2 linked regions of the Homo sapiens genome follow. The protein of the gene in region 2 interacts with the protein of the main gene of each other region in a pairwise test. Each region holds a gene or a part of one and is shown on either strand. Other genes may lie near its edges.

Region 1 (3,812 bases), on a different chromosome or scaffold from region 2:
ACACACACACACACACACACACACACACACACCCCTGGACTGAATTGGGAGTTCCCTGGCGGCATTGGCTGGGGGCCTCATCCTTAAGTGAATCGGGGAACCTGCAGCGTTGGTAAGAGCCATTGATTGGTGTGGTGCTATCACTCCTGTTGCCTGGAACATGCTAAACTTGCTTATTTTACTGCCATTTGATAGCAAAGATTTAATTTCACTCTGTAAAACTCCCCCGACTCAAGTAGTTTATTTTGCAGCTAGAGATCCATTATTGCATTAGGCTTTACCCAGTTAGAGTCAGTGTTAGCTTTGTTTTGCCTGCAAACCTCTGATTACTGTCAAATTGAATTAGATGTCTCCCTTTGCTGATCACTGATTGACTTTTCCTTAATTTCCCATTCATTTTTTTTCCCCATTTCAGTTGTTATAGATGAAGTCGATTAAATGGTTTTGTGTAATCAAGAACGGCATTCCATTTCAGTATTATCAACTTGTAAGTATGGAGCTTGTAAGTCAGGGGGTGGATGAAAACAAGCTGATAATGAGCTGGTATTTGAAAATTGAGAGGGAGCTTAATAGGAAACCTTCTCCAAGGTGAGGTAGCTTAAGGGCTCAGGGTTTTCATGGAGGGAACCTTGATGGCAGAACTTGGGAATCAAGGTGTCAGATGATGGTAGGGCACACACCAGGGGTGTTAGTTTCCTGCAGCTGCTGTAACAAATGACCACAAACTTGGTGGCTTAAAACAACAGAAAGTGATTCCCTCACAGTCTGGAGGCTGGAAGTCCAAAATCAGTCTCATTGGAGATCAAGGTGTCAGTAGGGCCACGCTTCCTCCAGAGACCTAAGGGGAGACTTGGACTTTGCTTCTTCTCCCAGCCCCTGGTGGCTGCCATGGGCATCTCCTGGGCTTGTGGCCATGTTATTCTCTTGTCTCCGTCTTCACTTTGCTTTCTTCTCTGCTTGTCCATCTGATCCCCTCCGTCTTTTAAAGACATTTTTGATGGCATTTAGGACTCACCCAGTTAATCCAGGACAGCCTCCCCATCTGAAGACCATTAACTTCATCATGTCTGCAGAGTCCCATCCCCCTAAAGATGACATTTTCAGGTTCCAGGGATTAGGATGTGGGCCTATCTTTGGGAGGCCATTTTTCGACTTACCACACTGGGCCTGCTTCACGGAAGGCCTTGGTACGACGGCCCAAGGCCTGGGCTGGACTGAGTGGTATGAGGTTGAGGGGCTGGACTGAGCGGTATGAGGAGGAGGGGCTGGACTGAGCGGTATGAGGAGGAGGGGCTGGACTGAGCGGTATGAGGAGGAGGGGCTGGACTGAGCGGTATGAGGATGAGGGGCTGGACTGAGCGGTATGAGGAGGAGGGGCTGGACTGAGCGGTATGAGGATGAGGGGCTGGACTGAGCGGTATGAGGAGGAGGGGCTGGACTGAGCGGTATGAGGTTGAGGGGCTGGACTGAGCGGTATGAGGAGGAGGGGCTGGAATGAGTGGTATGAGGATGAGGGGCTGGATGGGGTTTCCAGGGGGTATTTCCCCAGCACCATAGATCACCTCATTGCCTTGTCCTTTCACCTTCAGGAAAGGGAGGAGGATGGGCTAGAGAAAGAGCAAGAAGTGAGAGAGTGGGGAGAAATGCTTGGAAATACTGCATTTGCACAGAAGTTGGAAGGTACAGGAAGAACTGCCTAAAGAAAAGCCTAGCATGCACCCTTAAGCCTGGCATGTGGGAACCAACACCAATTGTTAGGATGACTGTAATCGTACGGCTGTGATAATGAGGTCTAGATTCATGGAAAGAGCCACCTGGGCTGTCCTTTCTGTTCAGAGTGGTCTGCAGTGTAGACACTTGCTAACCAATTGTGGAGCTTCATAGGGTCCTATTTTGACATAGCTCATGGAGGTGCAAAACCCTGATATGGGCTGGTTCAGCCCTGGGAGTGGAGCCTGAGAGGGAGTTCGTGAAGACTCTGCTCTCCGTGGGTCTCATGGACGTGCGGGAGCAGAGGGGACGGTGGAGTCAATGAGGAATTGTCAGAGGCTCCTGAGACTACGCTGAAGGGCTAGAGTGAGGAGGAGAGAGAGGCTGCCGGTGAAAGGTGGCGTCATTCCCCACTGCCAAGGAGGGTCTCTCCATGCCTGGAAATGCGTCCCAAAGGGCATCAGATAGATTCCTTATATTTTCAGGGAAGCTATTTGTTCCTTGTGGCTGCTATAACAAATTACCACTCTGGTGGCTTAAAGTAACAAATTGATTCTCTCACAGTTCTGGAGGCCAGAAGTCTTAAAAAGTATTGGCAGGGCCACGCTCCCTCCAGAGACTCTAGGGGAGGATCCTTCCCTGCCTCTTCTGGCTTCCAGTGGCAGCCAACATTCCTTGGCTTGTCGCCCCTCACCCCAATGTCTGCCTCCTTCCTCCTGTGGCTGCCCCCTCTGCTTATTTGTGTGAAAACTCCTTCTTTCTCTATTTTATAAGGACACTTATGAGGACATTTAGGGCCTACCCAGGTAATCTAGGCTAATCTCATCTCAGAATTCTTCACTTAATAACTTCTGCAAAGACCCTTTTTCCAAATAAAGTCACATGATCCAGAGATTAGGCCATTATTCAACCTGGTACAGGCAATTGAAGAACTCAATAAGGTATCTTAACTATAATTGTGTACTCTGTTAAAAAGGCAGATTGTATTACTGCTGGGCCTTTAGACTTGTTTGTTTACAGTACTTGTAAGAATTTCATTGCCAGAGGGTGTAATTTTTTAGATACTGCCACACGGAGTGGAGCAAAGACAATGCCTAATTGTACTTTTCAGCATTCTTTTTTCTCCACCTCCCCAAGAGGATGGATATGAAATATGTGTGTGTCTATGTGTTTTTGGAGGGTAACAGTTAACAAAGCTGTTAGTTTAGCATCCCTTGAACTACTTGGGGCCAGACACAGCCAGAGTGTAACTTTACCTCCTGGGGGCTGAGAGCATCAGCCCGAGCTGACTTGAGGTAGTGCAGGCCCCATGCTGTGAGGTGTGGATGGCAGGGGCTCTTCTAGCCTGTCTGGTCCCCTTGGGGGCTGATTGACTCTTTGTTACTCCCATCTTTGGATTAAGGGCCTGAACCTCCCTATTAAAATGAGACTCTGGGCTGGGCACGGTGGCTCATTCCTATAATCCCCGCACTTGGGGAGGCCAAGGTGGGCGGATCACTTGAGGCCAGGAGTTTGAGACTAGCCTGGCCAACATGGCCAAACCCTGTCTCTACTAAAAATACAAAAATTAGCTGGATGTGGTGGCGGGTGCCTGTAATCCCAGCTACTCAGGAGGCTGAGGCAGGAGAATTGCTTGAACCCGGGAGGCAGAGGTTGCAGGGAGCCGCCAAGATTGTGCCACTGCATTCCAGCCTGGGCCACAGAGCGAGATTCCATCTCAAAAAAAAAAAAAAAAAAAAAAAAAAAAGAAGGAGACACTGCTCTATAGAGGAGATAATACATTATGCTGTTTATAGCCATCTTTGCTTTGGTGATTCCATTGGTTAGTCACTATTAGTCACTTGCTGTTTATGAAGCGCTGTGTGTCGTGAAGGGGGAGTGGTCCCTGCATTAAGCCATGACTTACATCTTACTGCAGATGCTGTTGTATAGGGACGTAGGGAAGGAAGGTGCGGGGGAGTCTCTCTGGTAGGGAGGTTAGCCTCTGAAGGACCTGGGGTTGGGGGCTTGAGTGGGGGAAGGGGGTGGCTGGAGTACCTGGAGAGTGATAGAATGCATGTCCCAGGGAGTGACAAGACATGCCAGGAGGGAGAGCTGGGAGG
Region 2 (4,501 bases):
ACTTACTCTCAAAGTTCATGATCTGAATTCTAGAGTTACATACATGATTACCTGTAATCTGTTAAGTAAATGGTGGATAAGCTGGCTCACTTTGCTGACAAGATGATTCTGATTAAGAGGTACCAGTCGGCAAGCCTGGACAAGAAGAGCACTAACGTCCTACCAAAAAAAAAAAGATAAGAGGTAAAATACTTATTAGTCAAGTGAAGATCCTCAAAACACAGCCAAATGGGAAAATAAAAGTAAATATTCACATTCAAAATGGGGAAAGAAAATGTGAGGCAGGAAGGAAAAAAATGAAGTGATAGCACAAAAACAGCATGTGCTAAAAAAGAAGGAAAAAGCCAGGCACAGTGGCTCACACCTAATCCCAGTTCTTCCGGAGGTCAAAGCGGGAGGACTGCTTGAGCCCAGGAGTCCAAGACCAGCTTGGGCAACATAGTGAGACTCCATCTCTACAGAAAAAACTTTTTTAAAAAAATTAGCTGGATATGGTGGTATGTAGTCCCAGCTTCTTGGGAGGCTGAGGTGGGAGGATGGCTTGAGCCCAGGAGTTTTAGGTCACAGTGAGCTATGATCTTGCTGCTGCACTCCAGTCTGGATGACAGAGTGAGACCTTGTCTCTTAAAAAAAAGAAAAAAGAAAAAAAAAGGAAAAGAATCAGTACGGTTTTGGTCAGGCTGAAGACTCTGTGCTCTCTATATGTAAAGACAGTATAATTAAATAACCAGAAAAAGGCTTCTAGGGTATGAAAGCACAAACTGAAGCTAAAAATATCAAAAGGTAAGTGAACCAGATTTTCAATGCCATTGGGAAAAATCAGACCTAACACTTCTATGGATTTTATGCATAATTAGGGAATTCTTAAAAAAAAAAAAAAAAAAAGAGGGACCTATTTGCAAGTCACACTCTTCATCCATCGATGTTTATAGAATGACAAGGTTCTGAGCACCTACTATGTGTCATAGTGTGCTAGGTCTTTGGGCTCCAAAGGTAAAACAAACATGTTCCTGAACCTCAAAGAGCTCACAAACTAGTGAGAGAGAAAGAAACACAACAAATAATTAAAATAAGGTGAATCAAGTGCTGAAAGAATAAAGTACAAACTCTGTCCAGAAACAGTAATTAGGGAGGCCTTGTGGAGGTGACTGTAAAGCAGAATCTGGAATGATTTGAAGGATGAGGAGAAATTTGCCAGATAGGGCATCAAAAAACACTGCAAGCAAAGTGGACAGAGTATGCAAAAACCTGGAGGTGTGAAACACTAGTAGGTGCCTGAAGAACAGCAAGTTTTAAATGGCTGCACACAGGAACAAAAGGGGGAGTAACAGGAGAGAATGGAAGTTTTGTTGCAAAAGTATCCAATTACACAAATACAGCAAAAGTCCCCGACTACTGCCTTAATCTCACTCTGCTTCCTAATGACATACACTATTATTCTGTAGTCAATTCTTTCAGACCTTTTACTTTGCATATATAAACACACATATTTTAAAATCCCTCCTCCAGCTTCATACTGATCTCATTCTGTATGAATTGTCCTGCAACTTGCTTCAACCATTTACCAATACGTATTGAAGACTTTTCCAAAGCAGATTTTAAAGTTTATGAACAATTTTTTTTCCTCCTAAAGAAAAGATCATTCTGGCATTGGAGGAATGACTGGCTTGGAGAGGAGCTAGACAGGAGGCAGGAGATCAGTCAGAGGGGATCAGCGAACAGTCCAGGCATAAGTCGCCTTGCCTGAGGTCTAAGGCACTCGCTATGGGAATAGACAGGAGGGGATGAACTGAGAAATATATATGAGACACATTCTGAAATACCTGAGTTGGTCAGGATCTGGGATGAAGGAGGGAAGAACCAGTGTTTGTGTCTGGTGTGACTTGGTGGATGATGCATGTGTGTTGGAAGGTGGGATGGACTGGGGACGGGAATGCGTGTTTGGAGCTAATGAATTTCATCTTTAGGAACTGTCTAGTTTGAGATGCCTGTGCAAGCAGGCAACTTGCACCACTTCCCTCTTTCCTACGTAGGGCCAGAAGGCCATGGTGTCAACAGTTCAGAGAATTCATTAATTTAAGGCCTGATGTGTGTAAGATTACTCAGAAAGACGGCAGAGGGGAGGAGCTAGTGTGTAGGAACAGAAAACATAGGGGCTTTGTGGCAGAGTTTTGTATACTGTATTTTTACGAGCTTCAGTATTTTCATTAGCAAACAAGCCCTAATACTACGCAAGTTCTAAGATTCCCACGTGGTCCGTGTACCATGTACGCAATAAACAGTAGTAATGCATTTTGTCAACCAAGTGTTCTGGGTGCACAGAGAGGGAGTGAAGGAGGGTGCGGGCGGATGGAAAGTTGGTATCAGAGAGGAAACCCGAGGCATTATCAGAGCAGGAGTCGTCAAGTTGGGTTTTGAATGACTCGAGCGTGCCAAGCACTGCAGGGTCTTCCAAATGGAGAACTAAGAATGTGCCAAGGTTGGAGGGGGCACGCCATCCTGAAACTAAATCATCAGGCGCGAGAGTGGGAAGATCAGGGAAAGGCAGGCAGAGGCCACCAGCTGGGTTCCCGGAGGGGTGGGGCCGGGGCCGGGGCCAGCAGGGCGCGCCGCCTACCTCCGGGGCCACGCCACTGCCCTCGCTGTAGTTCTCGGAGATGAGCTGATCGAAGAGCAGGTGGATCTCGGTGCGGGCGGAGCTGCTGTCATCCGGGCGCAGGGCGCAGAGCCTGGCAGACAAGAGGCGAAACCCATTGCCTCGCTCAGGGATTGCTTCCCGCGGTGCCTCCCGCGGCTGCACGGAAGGCCACGAACCGACAACTTGCACAGCAGCCATCTTTTCTACGGGCGGGGGGGGTGGGTGGGGTGATCCCAGGGAAATACTTCCGGGACATCCTCCCGTTCCGCGCGCTCTAGTTCCGAAAGTACCTTTTTTAGACCGGACTGGGGCTCAGAGGGGTTTCCATGACTACGGGACTCCTCCGACCGGTACCCTGCAGATGCTTGTCAGAAATTGGCTTGGAGGCCGGGCTCGGTGGCTGACGCCTGTAATCCCAGCACTTTGGGAGGCCGAGGCGGGCGGATCACGAGGTCAGAAGATCGAGACCATCCTAGCTAACACGGTGAAACCCCGTCTCTACTAAAAATACAAAAAAAAAAAAAAAAAAAAAATTAGCCGGGAGTGGTGGCGGGCGCCTGTTGTCCCAGCTACTCGGGAGGCTGAGGCAGGAGAATGGCGTGAACCCGGGAGGCAGGGCTTGCAATGAGCCAAGATCGCGCCACTGCACTCCAGCCTGGGCGACAGAGCGAGACTCCGTCTCAGAAAAAAAAAAAAAGAAAGAAATTGGCTTGGAGATTTTTCGCCGGCCACTCCTTCTTGAGCCCTGACTGAAAAGTGAGTTCTCAATTTGTGCTTCCAGAAAGTTTGTCCTCCCAGAGTTTGTTCCTGGACAGGGCTGAAGGTACTCTGTTCCGTACTAGAGTTTCAGATTCGGGCTGGAGTTGGAGAGGGTATGCTGTGGATGGCAGTAGCAGAAACCGCTAGTTCTAAGGCACCCTTCTACTCTTCTAAAATCTTTCCCCAGGCACAAAACCACCCGGAATAAAGGCTACGTTCCCTAGCATTCCTTGCAGTTGGCTGTGGCTCTGTGATTGCAATCTGGTCAGTGGAATATAAGGCAGCTTTCCCTACTTAAGTGACAGCTGGCTGTACTCTTGGTTCCTTTTTCTCCCTTTTTCCCAGTGTGAATCCTCTCATGGATCATGAGGCACCTCGCCCCACTAGAAGAGTAATTTTGGAGTTTAACTGAATCATGTAAAATATAATCTGCCTAAGAGTGACCGGGTTGAAATGAGACACCCCAAGATTTTCTGAAACCTTGAAGTCAAGAAGCTGGAGAATAAAATGGCCATTTAAAAATCTGTGATCACTTTTCAGTCATCCAGGAAGTGAAGGCTTGACTTTCACAGTTGGGCAGATTGGGAAAACCATCTCTAGGGCCTTTGAGTTATGCAAATATAAAGCAAATCCTCACCCTTGGCCCTTAGGGAAAACCTTGAAGTCACCTGAATGTATGTTTTATCCTGAGAACAAAACATTTCTGTTCAGCAGTGAAAATTGGGGGTATGCTTTAGCAGAGGTAGTTTTCTGAAGACTTTGGGCTTGGGGAGAAATGTTAATTTTTTTGTTTGGATTTAGATTCCGTTGTGCTGGTATATTATTTCTTATTCCTAGTCTGTGTACATATGTGCGTTATATATGTGCATGTGTGTGTGTGTATTCGTGTAAAGAAATGTATTCAAGCATTTGTTCAGAGAAGATCAGGAGCTGAAACCTAGTCGTTGGATATTTTAATCTGGGTTCCCTGATAGCAGAGCCTCAGATGAGGTTGATAGGTGAGGGATTTATCCAGAAATGAACAGGGAAGGAAGGAGAATTAATACCAATATGTGCTATTGAGTTGGCCATTGCAAGGGGTGACTGATTGTTCAGTCCTCAGGA

Evidence for each region.
Region 1: the proteins of HEATR6 (region 2) and HUNK interact in a two-hybrid assay, tested with the Homo sapiens proteins (one large-scale study listed by BioGRID and IntAct).

Annotation. Positions count from the first base shown.
Region 1 is NC_000021.9:31,917,726-31,921,537, forward strand, and holds part of HUNK (hormonally up-regulated neu tumor-associated kinase), read left to right. Parts: intron 1-3,812.
Region 2 is NC_000017.11:60,076,079-60,080,579, forward strand, and holds the start of HEATR6 (HEAT repeat-containing protein 6), read right to left. Parts: upstream 2,844-4,501; 5' UTR 2,837-2,843; coding exon 2,618-2,836; intron 160-2,617; coding exon 52-159; intron 1-51. UniProt on the Homo sapiens protein: Amplification-dependent oncogene.